2 linked regions of the Homo sapiens genome follow. The protein of the gene in region 2 interacts with the protein of the main gene of each other region in a pairwise test. Each region holds a gene or a part of one and is shown on either strand. Other genes may lie near its edges.

Region 1 (7,025 bases), on a different chromosome or scaffold from region 2:
AAATAAAGAATAAACGGGATTTTTTTTCACCTTCATTTTTAAAAGTTATTTTTATTGTGGTACAATACCTAGAACATAAAATTTACCGTTTTAACCATTTCTAAGTATGCTCTAAGTACATGTCATTAAGTACATTCACAATGCATGGCCACCATCCATCTCCAGAATTTTATCTTCCCAAACTGAAACTCTGTATCCATTACACAATAACTCCCTAATTCCCCCTCCCTCCAGCCCCTGGCAACCACCATTCTGCTTTCTGTCTCTATGAATTTGCCTATTCTAGGTACCTCATATAATTGGAATTATTATTCCAGTGTTTGTCCTTTCATGATTGGCTTATTTTACTTAGTATAATGGCTTTAAGGCTCACCATGTGGTATCATGGGTCAGAATTTATTTCCTTTGAAAGGCTGAGTTATACGGTGCCTTGTGTGGATATGCCACATATTGTTTTCCATTCATCTATTGATGGACATTTAGGTTGCCTTGACGTTTTGGCTATTGTGAGTAATGTTGCTATGAACATAGATGTACAAACATCTCTTTGAGACTCTGCTTTCAATGCTTTTGATATATACCCAGAAATGGAATTCCTGGATCACACAGTAATTCTGTTTTTATTTTTATTTTTTGGAATTGCCATCCTGTTTTCCTCAATGGCTGCACAATTTCACATTCCCACCAACAGTGCACAAGAGTTTCAATTTCTCCACATCCTCACCTATACTTCTTATTTTCTGTTTTTTAAATAATAGCCATCCCAATGGGTGTGAGATGATCTCATTGTGGTTTTGCTTTACATTTCCCTGATGATCAGTAATGTTGAGCATCTTTTCATGTGCCTGTTGGCCATTTGATTTGACTTCTTTTAGACTGATTAGCTTTACCATTCCATTTGTCTTTCTCTTCTAGTTTAGGTGCTATACATCTTGTTTCTGTTCTTTTAGTGATTATGCTAGAAATTACAACACAAATCCTGGGTCTTGAAGGTTACCAAGGTAGCTTCAGTGTCCAACAGGGCGTGATGCCCACAGAGGTGCCTAAGACATTCAAATATGTTCAATCCAACAGTTATAGATTAAATACTAATGATATGATCTTGGGCTGTCCTTGCTGTGAGATCCTTGCAGCCTCCTTACTATCTAGTAACAGAGATAAACCAATCATTCATTCAATCATTGTCCGCATTTTATGTGCCAGTGCTGGACATATACACAGATCACTATAATGTAAGACAGACTGTGGTGAGTGAAAGAGCCATGACAAAGTGATATTAGGGTATCGGAATAAGAAATTATTACATAAGTTGAACAGATCAGGGGAGACAGGAAAGGGAATCACCGTGGAATGGCAAACAGGACATGAGTTCTGGAGTTCATCAGACTTAGATGGCAATTAGCTATGTGACTCCAAGCAAGTACTGCAATCCCTCTAAGTCTCAGTATCCCCATCCTCTCAGTCTGGTCCATGGGAAATGCTCCTACAGAAATGTCTGCCTTCCTCCCTTCCTTCCTCCTCTTCTTTCTCGCCTATCTTTCCTTCCTCCTTTTCTTTCTCACCTTCTTTCCTTCCTTCCTTCTATCTTGCTCAGAGCCTCCCTCAGTGCTTCCCCTCCTTCCCAAATGATGTTCAGAATCATAGCTGATTACTGAGCATTACTGGAAGTAATGGGGAGGAAATAGAGAAAATGGAGGAAAGGCAGAGGGACAAGAAGGAAGGAGGAAGCAAGAAGAGAGGAACGAGAAAATGGCTTGGAGGAGATTTGGAACACAAATATTCATGTCCTTAAAATTAGGCTGTGGCTCTGACAGCCCCTCTGAGAGCCAGCTTTCATTCAGAGGATGGCTTTCCCTCATCTCTTCCGGGCTTGTATCACCATCCCCCTAAACTATCTCAATATCCTTTTTCCTGATCGTCTAACCTCTGATCTCCACCCTCTCCAATCTATTCCAGTGCTTACTTCTGGAGGTCTTTCAAAAGCATCTTTTTTTTTTTTTTTTTTTTTTTTTTTTGAGACGGAGTCTTACTCTGTTGCCCAGGCTGGAGTGCAGTGGGGCAATCTCGGCTCACTGCAACCTCTGCCTCCCGGGTTCAAGCAATTCACCTGCCTCAGCCTCCTGAGTAGCTGGGATTACAGGTGTGTGCCACCACACCCAGCTAATTTTTTGTTTGTTTGTTTTTGTTTTGAGGCAGAGTCTCGCTCTGTCGCCCAGGCTGGAGTGCAGTGGCGCGATCTCGGCTCACTGCAAGCTCCGCCTCCCGGGCTCACGCCATTCTCCTGCCTCAGCCTCCCGAGTAGCTGGGACTACAGGTGCCCGCCACGATGCCCGGCTAAGTTTTTTGTATTTTTTTAGTACAGATGGGGTTTCACCGTGTTAGCCAGGATGGTCTCGATCTCCTGACCTTGTGATCCGCCTGCCTCGGCCTCCCAAAGTGCTGGGATTACAGGCGTGAGCCACCGCGCCCGACCATTTCTTTTGTATTTTTAGTAGAGACAGGGTTTTGCCACGTTGGCCAGGCTGGTCTCGAACTCCTGACCTCAGGTGATCTGCCCTCCTCAGCCTCCCAAAGTGCTGGGATTACAGGCGTGAGCCACCGCCTCAAAAGCATATTTGATTACATCCCTCTCCTGCTCAAAAATAGTCAGTGGTTTCCCATTGCCTAAGTGATGATGTATAAAGGTATCAGACTGGGCATTCAAAGCCCTCCTCCATTCTCTGGTGTTAACCCCTTGCCAGCTCGTCCTCCTACTCTTCCCTACGTGATTGCCTTGCGTTCCAGGCAATCTATTCACTAAACAAACAGGAAATGTACTCTCCCACTCCTTCACCTCTGCTCCCACTACTCCCACTACTCCTGCCAGTGGAAAGATGGCATGATAGCTCTTCCTGGACTATCCAGGGACAGCGCCTCCTTTTAGATATTACTCAAGTCATATCTTCTCTGTAACATTTTCCAGACAACCCAAGACTATATCGCCTCTGAAAGTCTAGAGCATTTTGTAAGAATGGCTGGGTAGCAGCCATTATATCTTTGGTGCCCTCTACCCAATAAGCTCCATGAGAACAGGAGCCCTTTCTTATCATTATTATATTTCATGCAAGACCAAGCTTGACACTAACTTGAAGGTCTTCCAGATTTCTTCTTCCTCAGCAGAAATCTTTAAATTCACTCTTATTCTTTTTTCTCTCCCTTGGACATCCTTTTTGGGTGTGTGGGCCTGCCCTCTTTCTCTGGTTTCTGGTACTGTAAAAAATAGAACAGGTTGGGTGCAGTGGCTCATGCCTGTAATCCAAATATTTTTGGAGGCCGAGGTGGGAGGATCGCTCGAGCCTGGGAGTTTGAGACCAGCTTGGGCAACACAGTGAGACTCCATCTCTACAGAAAAAAAAAAAAATCAAAAAATTAGCCAGGCATGGTGGTGCATGCCTGTGGTCCTAGCTATTGTGCAGGCTGAAATGGGGGGCTCCTTTGAGCCTAAGAGGTAAAGGTTAGAGTGAGTTGTGATCACGCTATTGCACTCTAGCCTGGGTGACAGAGTGAGATCCTGTCTCAAAATAAATAAATAAAAATAGAACATAGTCTTCAGACCAGTTCTGTCACTTACTTGCTATGAGACCTTATGCAAGTGAGTCTCTGTTATTTTCTATGTGACCTTGAGCAAGTAAGTCATTCACCCTGTACCATAACAGAAACAGCATAGTACCTGCCTCTCAAGACTGTTCCAGAGATCTTTGAGGTGAGAAAATCCTCAATACATGTTAATTTTCTTCCTTTTAACTACCGAAATTGACTACTTGGAGCCCAACCACCACACCTGATAAGATACTACCAACCTTGTCAATCTTGCCACTTGATCAAGAGAGGAGTGACAACCACTCCTCTGAGGCAGACACCTTAGACACTGACTTTATTACATCTTCAGGAAGAATAATGATAACTAAAGCAGATACAGGCTTTTTCTTTTTCTTATTTTCTTTCTTTTTTTTTGGAGACAGAGTCTTGCTCTGTCTCCCAGGCTGAGGCTGGAGTGCAGTGGTATGATCATAACTCACTGCAGCCTCGAACTCCTGGGTTCAAGCGATCCTCTTGCCTCAGCTTCCCGAGTATCTGGGACTACAAGTGTGCACCACCATGCTTGGTTAATTTTTAAATTTTTTTGTAGAGACGAGGTCTCACTATGTTGCCTGGGTTGGTCTCGAACTCCTGGACTCCAGGGATCCTCCTGCCCTGGCCTCCCAAAATGCTGGCATTACAGGAGTGAGCCACCATGCCTGGCCTAGACTTTGATGCATTCCCAGCATTCCCACATACCCCATCACGGCATCTTTCATTAATCCCCTTCCATCACCCCAGCATCAACTCAGCTGCGTTGGGCTGAAAAATTCTACCTCCTTGGTGACTTTCAAATTGGTATGTGAAATAGTAGCCTATTTCAGGTTCCCATTGGCTTTCATCTGAATGCCAAAACTCTTAGCTGATCTCTTTGCCTATAGTTTCTCTTGCTCTCACAGTTATTCCAGATTATCTTCCTGAAACAGACACGATCATGCTACTCTTCTGCTCTCTGCTTACTAACCTTTACTGGCTATTCATTTCCTTCAGCATCAGGCCTAATCTCTCCAGTTTCCTTCCCAGCTTCATCTCCTGTACCACGGCTTCCTTAGGCTGCCTGTGTTTTTGCAGGTAATGATGTTACTCCCAGGCCTTGGACTCTCCCATCTCCTGGACTTTGTTCAGGCTCTTCTTTGTGCATGGAGGACCCTTCCTCTACCAATCCATCTGACAAAAATCCTACCTTTCCTCCAAAATTCAACTTTGAACCTTATCTTTCACAAGAAACCCAGAGCTTCTCCAAGACAGGAATTTTGTTTTCCACACGTATTAATGTGAGTTAATACACATGAGGTACTTAAAATAGTTATTGGCACATAATGAATGCTATCTACTTTTTTTCCTACAGCTTGGAGTAAAGATACATGATCTCTCTGATTCTTAGTTTCTTCATCTGTAAAACGAGATAATAAAATTATCCACCTATGAGGACTGCAAGAACATTAAATGAGATAATATACATTAAGTGCTGAACAGAGTGCTGTTTCACAACAAATGGTCAATACATGGTATCAAGGACCATGCTTGCATTATTTTCATCATTTCCATATTTACTCCTTTCACCCTCCCCTTTCCAGTTCCCAACCCTGTCCCCATGGCTTTTAACATAGAGATTTCATATGAGGTAGGCTCATCAATGTTTACTGAATTATTAAATTACCTGTCACTCCTACAAGTTCTTATATTTATAGTTTATTTGGATCCAACAAGTAATCACAAAGCCACAGAAATTCCTCTTTGACAAACTACTTTTGTTTTTTTTTTGTTTTGTTTTTTTGTTTTTTTTTTTTAAATTTCTGAAGGCATTGAGCCAACTGACTAGATTAGGCAAGCATTGCCAACATTCAGATTTAGGTCATTGCCCCGAAACATGAAACATAATGTTTTCACCCATAAGAATTATAGGTTTTCACCTTACACTGGAAATAACTCGTTGCCTATATCCTTACACACACATGCACACCTTATAACTTCAGATAGCCTTTCCTTGTTTGGAATACGGTTTCTCTTCCTATTAACTTTCACCTGCAACTTGGAGAATTGTGAAATTGAACTTCTTCCTTTACTATAATTCAATGTAATGAACATTTATCATAAGCTATCTCTCTGTGTTTGGCACTGTGCTAAAGGCCAAACTTACTGTCTGATAGGGAGAGAGACAGACATATGAGGTACTAATTACACCATCAAACAAAATGAACCAGAACCAGAAAGAAGCACGAGTAATGTCTTGGGAGTGTGCAGAAGAGGGAGTCCTCAATTCTGACCGGGAGATGAGCAAAGATATCACAAGGAAGTGTCATTTGAGCTAAACCATAAAGCCTGAGAGAATTTTGATAAGCAGAAAGTTGGAAAGAGAGTAATAAAAATAAGGGAACAGTATCATCAAAGGCACAGAAATGTGAATTACATGGTGAGTTGAGGGAATGGGAAGTAGACAAAGGTGGTCGGGCCCGTTTCCCATACTTTAGCCATTTGTGTCCCATCTTCTGGCTCTTTCCACAGCTGTGTACCACCTATGCTATTATTACTTAACATACTTTTCCTTCAAATTAAGTCATCTCTGTAGCCTAAATTAATGTATTTTAACAGGAAATTTTATATCGCTACCATGAATTTGCTTTTATTCTCTATGCATTAAAATAACTTTTTATCCATACACCACCTTGGATCATCTAATGTCCCTACAGGGCATGGGAACACTAGGCTACGAAACACTTTGAGAAATACTAGGCTGCAGCATAAGGAATGTGAGTACGGCTACTGAGAGATGAGGCTAGGAAGACACGTGGGGCTAGGCCAGTGAGGGCCTTGAATACCAAGCCAATGTGTTCAGACTTTATTCTGTCAGCAGTTGGAAAATATTGATGGTTTTGGAGGAAGCAAACAACATTATGTGATTGTGCTTTTTAAAAATTTCTGGCAGAGGTGTGGGAAATGGATTGGAGGGGAAGAAACCCATAGCTGAAGGGCAGACAAAAGGCTGCAGTCCAGACTAGAAAAAAATCAAGTCCTGGACCATAGCAGTAGCAATGGGGACAGAGGCAGGAAGACGGATAGGAGAAGTTTTTTGTTTGTTTGTTTGTTTGTTTGTTTGTTTGTTTGGAAAGGGAAAGAAGTCAAAGATGGCCTAAAAATATTGAACCTATGACATTTATCTTGAGGCCTGAAAGATGAATAGGAACTAGCCAGACACAGAGCTGAAGAGAGAGTTTTCCAGGCAAAGGGGACCGCAGGCAGAGAAGCCCTGAAGCTAGAGAGCACTTGAAGGAGCTGAAAAAAATAGCATGGTGGAATGCAAAGAACAAGGTGGTGGCCAGAGACTAGATCACCAAGATCTCCTAACCCTTCTAAGCCAGGGTTAGGAGACTGGACTTGATCCTAAGGGCCACAGGAAACCATATTTA
Region 2 (7,112 bases):
GAGTTCACACCTTTGGTTTTGCTGCTCAAGGTCATTACTTCCTCAGGAAGACCTGGTTCTACCCCTTACTTGTGACTGAGCATGTCATGTTACTTCTCTGCTGTGCCTCAGCCTCTCCATCCAGAACCACCTCACAGGGACTTTGCGGGAACTAGACAAGCCAATGTTTGTGGAGCATTTAGCACTTGGAGAAAGCCCCAGAAAGGGGGCTGTTATGCTAGGGCATCCCTGAGCCTTGGGAGAATGCCCTTCTCGCTGTTCCTTTGCAAACTGGGCATTCTTAGCCACTCGGATGGGCAAACTTCAAGAGGGGCCATCTGAGCTAAATAAACCGATCCTCTCTGCATCATTGTGAGCCCTGGGAACCACGTGAGTGGCCCAGTGAGTTGGAGGTGGGGCTGGGGTCAAGGACATGAAAGAAACATCAAGCGACTGAGCACCTACTGTGTGCCAGGCTTCCTGCATGTTACCCAAGAGACAGGAACCCTAGTCCCTGTTTTGCAGGTGAGGACACTTTGGTTTAGAAAGAACCTGAGTTCCTGCCTCCAAATGGGAAAGGAGATTTAGACAGCAGAAGACAGCTGCTCAGGGGCCAGCATTAGTGGGTCTGGTCTCAGAGGACCACTGTCCAGGCCTGTGTCTCCAGTGTGGAGTGACAAGCTGGCACCAACCTGGTGGCCAAAGGCTCTACCCTGGAGAACACTCTTTGACTTGCAGGCCCTTTTTATTTCCCTGTTGTCCTCCAGGAGAGCCCAGGTAATGAGCCTTAGGGTGAGCCATGCGGCTGATTGCACCACCCAGGGGATGAGGAGGCCACACCAGGGCTGAGAGGGGACAGACCACACAGCCCCTCCCATCCCAGGCCTATCCTTTCTCGGGGCCCATCAAATCCAGGAACACTTCCCCGCCACTGACCACTGACCCACAGTTTTCTCATTTACTTCCCACATAGGCCCAAGCCATAGAGGAGGAAATTGAGGCTAGGAAAGGGAAATGACTTGCCCAAGGTCAATCCCAGAGTAGGGAGGGCAGGCCCTGCCAGGTGCCAGTCTCAGGGGCCAGGGCGGTGCACTGAAGGCTGCATGTTCACAGGAGATCAGGTTCCACCCGAGGGAGCTCCTGACCAGGCAGCCCTTTCACAGCCACCTGTGAGTTCTCTCAGCTCTGGAGGGTGGGGCTGCAAAAGAACTGCAATGCGCCTCCTGCTGCATAAAGGACAGTTATCCTCCTGGGGTCAGACGTCGAGAGCCCAGGGCGGTGCCTTCCAAACCCAGACCCGCAGCGTGCGGGTCCGCCTGAGGGGTGTGAGGGGTGTCTGCTCTCTGCTGCTGAGGAGGCCCCACTGTCTTCTCCCAGCCCTGGTGTGGCCGCCCCTGTCCCCATCCCCCTGAGGTGACGTGATCAGGCTCTACTAGGGCTCATCTCCCAGGATGGGAAGGGCTGGGGCTGGGCCTGGGCGTCACCGGGCTACCTGTCCTACGAAGTCCAGTGACCTTCGCTGAACCCTGCTGCGAACCTCCCTAACGCCTTCTCTCACCCTCTGCGGAGAGCTCAGGACTCAGTTCAGCCTGATCGAAGCCAAACATCCCCGTCCCTTGGAGCGCTGCGCAAGGGCAGCCCCACAAGGGCCACAGCGCGGTGCACTCTGAGGCCCCCAACCCTCAGGGCCGAGCACTCCCATTGGCTCTGGGTGACGTCAGAGCCGGCCCCGCCTCCAGGTAGGCGCAGGCGGGAAGCACTGCGGCAGCAGGGGAGGGGGCTGTGGCGGCTCCTCTCGGTCGGTCCGTCTCCCCTCGCCTGTGACCTTGAGCACTGGAGGGGAGTGGGGCTTTGAGCCGGGCTTTGCGCCGGTGTGGGAGTTGGTGCTGGTGGTGCTGTGGTTCGGCCTGTCAGCCGCATCAATAATTCAGGGGACAGGGTCTGCATGGGCGGGCAGGTGCTGACGTCGTCACCTCCGTGCGTGCGGGGTGACCTATCGTCTGCGGAACCGGCAGGGCAGGCGTGTGGGGCCCGGGGGTGGGGGTGAGTCTGCCCCTGCCTCTCCCTCCTGAGGAAGAATGGGGCCGGGGTACCTGATGCCCCGGCGAGAGGAGGTGCCCTGGGCTCCACCTGGGGTCCCCTAGCCCTGCCAGCTTCACGGCTCCAGCGTTGCCTTCCCCCACCTACAAAATAAGGCAGGCAGGCAACCCCTCCTCGTTCCTCCCCAGCAGGGACCCCTGCCTGAAAGGCTGTCATTCCTGTGTGGCCCAGACCTCCTTGCCTCTGCCCGGCTGGCGCAGCAGAGCCCTGGGAACTGTGAGGTGGCTCCTAAGGAAGAGGCCGCCTGTCCTTCCCATCACACTGGCGCAGCCATCCAAACAAGCTAGACGGCCGCCCACTGGGACGGCAGCCCCTGCACGCACAGACCCGGCACGCACACTGGGCACACAGCCTCGGGGGCTCACCAAGGACACCCCCGCCCCCTGGCCTGATGGCCCCAGGCATCACCAAGGCAGACACCATCCAAGCGCACACCAGAGGGCACACGGTCAGAGGGACATGCAGGCACTAGCGCCCGGGTCCACACGGGCAATGCAGCCAAGTCAGACAGTGCCTTCCACGTTCCATTTCCTGCAGATATGTCACCCACCCCCCAACCACACGCTCCCCCCAGCCCCTGCTATGGGCTCTGACTAGCAGCTGCCCCCAGCCACTCCTGCAAACAGGATCACCAGGGAACCTGGAGCACTCTGGCCGTGTCTCAGTGACCCCAGGGTGAGGCTATTTGAAGGCCGGGCTGCCACCAGATGTGGGTTGAGGGGGGCACTTCCTCCCTGCGGTGGGTCATAAGGATGCACCATCCTCCCGGCCCACCTTGATGCCCGCAGCGCCCTCACTCACCCCATCCCAGCACTCCGGCATCTTGCCGAGGGAGGGAACCCGCCTCTACCAGGAAGGACAAACAAAGGCCTGAGTCACTCGGGTCCAGAGGGCGGGGGCAGCTCGAGTGGGAGATGGTCGGCTCTGTGATGGGGCACAGCTCCTGGGCCATTTATACAGGGATCCTGGCCCAGCCTAGCTAGCCCCTCCTCCCCGCAGGGTTTCTGAGCAGCCACTCGCTTACCAGGAGCCCCAGCTCCCATATTGGCTGCTGGGAGACAAGCCTGGCTCCAATTGGCTTCTGAAGTCCTCCTTGCCCCAGCCCTGTCACTGCTCCTCCCACCCCAGCCACACATCATCCTTGATGGTCCCCAGCCCCTGCATCCGCCCCCAGCACATAGGCACACGCCAACAGCTGCAGCTCACACGGGATCCTCCGAATACAAAAGCCGAGACCACACGTACAGACTCACCCATGTCAGGTACACACAGGGTCGTCACAGACATGCACAGCTTACCAATGCGGGGCAGGGCAGGGTGCATGGGCACTGCCCAGACAGCTAGAGCCCTTGACCCACACCTTGGGGAGTATGGAGGGCCCGAGAGGGCCCCAAGCCCAACATCTTGGGGACCAGACCCCCACGCCCAGCCTTCCCATTAGGAAGGTTCCATCGCTTAACCTTGTGGAGGCCTGGGGAGCTGCTGCTTTCTGGGGCAACTTGGGTTATCACCCTGCTTCAAGGGGCTGCTCCTTCTCCACCCACCAGGGATGAAAATCCCACCTTGCCCACGCAGATACAGGGGGTTTCCCCACATGCTGAAAATGGAGTTTGGGGGCCGGGGGCCAGGGGCCCTGGGCAGATAGCAGGGCCAGGGGTATGGTCAGGCACACACCAGCTCTGCCCTCCCCACCCTCACCCTGCTGCCAGGGGCTCCAGACCACCAGGGAGAGGAAGCGGGGCTAGGAGGCAGCTTGCTGACATTGACATGCCCACCTCCTGTAGACCCACCCGGCCCTCGTTCCCAGAGGCAACCAGTTTGGGGCTTGGCTCTCGGGTCTCTGGGGAGCAGAACACTAGGTCTATCTCAGGCTCCGTGCCCTGTTCTCCTGGGCAGCAAGGATCTGGGTGGCGAGCTCGCCCGAGGCCTGCAGGTGGAGTGAGCAGAGGAGAAGAAAGGCCAAGAAGTGCACAGGAGGAGAGGAAATAGGCCAGAGAGGGAAGCAGAGGAGGGGGCCCAAGGCTGGGAGAGCAGGAGCCACAGAGAGAAGGGGGCTGCTGCGTGCCTATGCTCCCAAATCCATGAAGATTATATGTATTATCGTTGCAACTGCCTGTGCAGTAGGCACTGCTGTTTCTCCCATTTATATATGGAGGCTCAGAGAGGTTGACTGACTTGCCCAAGGTCACACAGCAAAGAAGTGGCAGACCTATGAGTGGGATCAGGGTTTGGCTGGCAAGACCTGACCCTGCCTTGTCTGGCCACGATAACTGCACAACTGCCAGAAAAGGGGCCAACAGTTTGGAGAGGCACACAGACTGCCCCATTTCTCTCCTGCCAGGGCCTGGGCAAGGGTGGGGTCAGGGCACAGAGCCTGAGATAGCCCTAGTGTCCTGCTCCCCAGATACCCGAGAGCCAAGCCCCAAACTGGTTGCCTCCAGGAACAAGGGCCGGGTGGGTCTACAGGAGGTGGGCATGTCAACGTCAGTAGCTGCCTCCTATCCGGCTTCCTCTCCCTGTCTTGCTGAAGAAGGAACACGCCACTCACCCCAGCCCATGCTGATGGCCCTGCATGCTGACTGGCTGCCCTTGGAGAAAGTGGTCATCTCTTCATCTCTGGGTACCTGCTGACCTGGTCGACACCTGCTATGTACACTATTGCTGGTCATGTCCTCTGCCTGGGGGCACCTATTCCATCTCTCACCTCTTACTCTGGAGGCCTAGGGAAGACTGACAGGCCCTGTGCTCCCCAGGGCAGCAGGAAGTAGAATGGGGAGTCCCCCTGGCCCGTCACCTCCTGGCCATGCTCCCCATTCCTGCAGGCACTGTGGCACAGGAAGAGGCTTGGAAAACTGAGGCACAGCCCTGCCCTCTGCCCACAATGCCCTCCCATGTCCCCCAAGGCCCCACCCAATCCTACGCCCACTCCAACCTCTGACCCCTGAGTGGCCTCTCCCCACCTTTGGACCCAGGTGACAAGCTGACCTGCGACACTGCCCACTCCAAGCCACAGCCTCCATGACTGCTCAGCTGTCTGCAAACCCACAGACGTGGGTTTAAGTCCTTCCTGGCCCCCTACCAGCCGGGTGACCTTGGGCAAGATTTTTTTTTTAACCTCTCTGTGTCTCAGGCTTCTAATTGTAAAGCAGGGACTGTGTGCCTTTCTCACCAAGCTGCTGTGAGAATCAGAAAAAACTGCAGAAATCACTCTAGATCTGACCCCACCCCTGCCCAGGTCCTGGCAGGGGAGAAATGAGGCAGCCTGTGTGCCTCTCCAAATTGTTGGCCCTTTTTCTGGTGGTTGTGCAGTTACAGTGGCCAGACAAGGCAGGCTCAGGTCTTGCCAGCCAAACCCAGGTCTTGCCAGCCAAACCCTGGTGCCACTCATAGCTCTGCCACTTCTTTGCTGTGTGACCTTGGGGAAGTCAATCAACCTCTCTGAGCCTCCGTATGTAAATGGGAGAAACAGCAGTGCCTACTGCACAGGCAGCTGCAAGGATAATACATATAATCCTCATGGACCTATGAGAAGGGATGAGGAAACTGAGAGTTGGAGAGGTTAGGTAATTTCCTCACTTGGCTAGTAAGCAGCGGCAGCTACTAGTACCCCAGCACTCTGGGTGGGCCTGAGGTCTCAGAATCAAGAGTGGCAAACACTATGTTCAAATGTCCTCCATGTGCCAGGCTTTCTTGGAGTGCTTTACCCATTCTCTCTATCCCTCTTTTTTTTTCTTCTTCTTCTTTTTTTGGAGACATGGTCTTGCTCTGTTGCCCAGGCTGGAGTGCAATGGTGCAATCTCTGCTCACTGCAACCTCCGCCTCCCGGGTTCAAGCCATTCTCCTGCCTCAGCCTCCCAAGTAGCTGGGACTACCAGCGCCTGCCACCACACCTGGCTAATTATTGTATTTTTAGTAGAGATGGGGTTTCACTATATTGGCAAGGCTGGCCTCAAACTCCTGACCTCAAGTGATGCACCTGCCTCAGCCTCCGAAAGTGCTGAGATTACAGGTATGAGTCACCACACCCAGCCTTTATCCTCTTTTTGGAAAATATTTTTAAGTATGGAAGGCTTCACGAATATGTGGGTCATTCTTGTACAGGGGTCGTGCTCATCTTCTCTGTATCATTCCAATTTTGGTATATGTGCTGCTGGGGCGAGCACTCATTTTCTCTCTTAATACCCTCTTTACAAATGAGGCAAATAAAGCACAGGGAGGTTTGGTAACCTGCCTAACATCACACAGCTAGTGGGCACAGAGCCAGGAACCACACCCAGGCAGTTTGGTGCTAACTCCACACTCTGGTGGCCACTCGTCACGGTCAGCTGAGTGTCCATATGAGGGGCCCATGGGCACCATCGCCTTAGAAACACTCGGGAGGTCCGTGCTGCCTGTCTCCCTGAAAATGCGGTAGACAAATGGAGTGACTTGGGCTGGAGGTCACATGCTTGGAAGTGGCGGGGCCAGAACCTAGGTCTGTCTGGCTCATGTTAGTCCCTCTGCTATACTACCTCCCCCACTGGCTGCCCCCACGGAGGCAGGGGACAGTGACAACGCCTGCCATAGTGAGCAGGAGATAAAATCCCTGCCAGGTCTTGGCCCAGATAACGACCATCCATTCTTGTGGCTGCTTTTCTAAAACAAAAAACGAAAAAAATGCTGCCTCCATGTGGTGTGACAGGAGTGGACAGGAAGGTGCCTTTTAATGCAACCTGCCTTTTACCAAGCAGAGGATCCTGAGAACCGGGGTCCCACACACCCTGGGCCCCGCAACTCCGGGGCTGCAGCTCAGAGGGCTCAGGGGCCAGAGGCAGCTTCGCAGCAGCAGTTGGGAACCCAGAGGTATGGTAGGGTCTCCTCCACGACTCCAGGATTCCCCTCTGCCTGTCCCCCACACCGTGGGCCTGTGTGCTGGGGCTGGCATCAGCACTGTTGGCGTCGGCCTCCCACACTGTGGGACCAGTGTGTTGAGGCACCGGCTGGCTGCTCTGAGATTTTACTTGGCCAACCCCCTCCTCCAGGGCCCATTTGCC

Evidence for each region.
Region 1: the proteins of NDRG4 (region 2) and DGAT2L6 interact in binary tests that used the Homo sapiens proteins (3 or more experiments, as listed by UniProt).

Annotation. Positions count from the first base shown.
Region 1 is NC_000023.11:70,180,483-70,187,507, forward strand, and holds part of DGAT2L6 (diacylglycerol O-acyltransferase 2-like protein 6), read left to right. Parts: intron 1-7,025. UniProt on the Homo sapiens protein: Diglyceride acyltransferase that uses fatty acyl-CoA as substrate. Particularly active with oleate as a substrate. Has no wax synthase activity to produce wax esters.
Region 2 is NC_000016.10:58,496,038-58,503,149, reverse strand, and holds the start of NDRG4 (protein NDRG4), read right to left. Parts: upstream 3,008-7,112; 5' UTR 2,902-3,007; coding exon 2,881-2,901; intron 2,163-2,880; coding exon of another isoform or gene 2,073-2,162; intron 1-2,072. UniProt on the Homo sapiens protein: Contributes to the maintenance of intracerebral BDNF levels within the normal range, which is necessary for the preservation of spatial learning and the resistance to neuronal cell death caused by ischemic stress.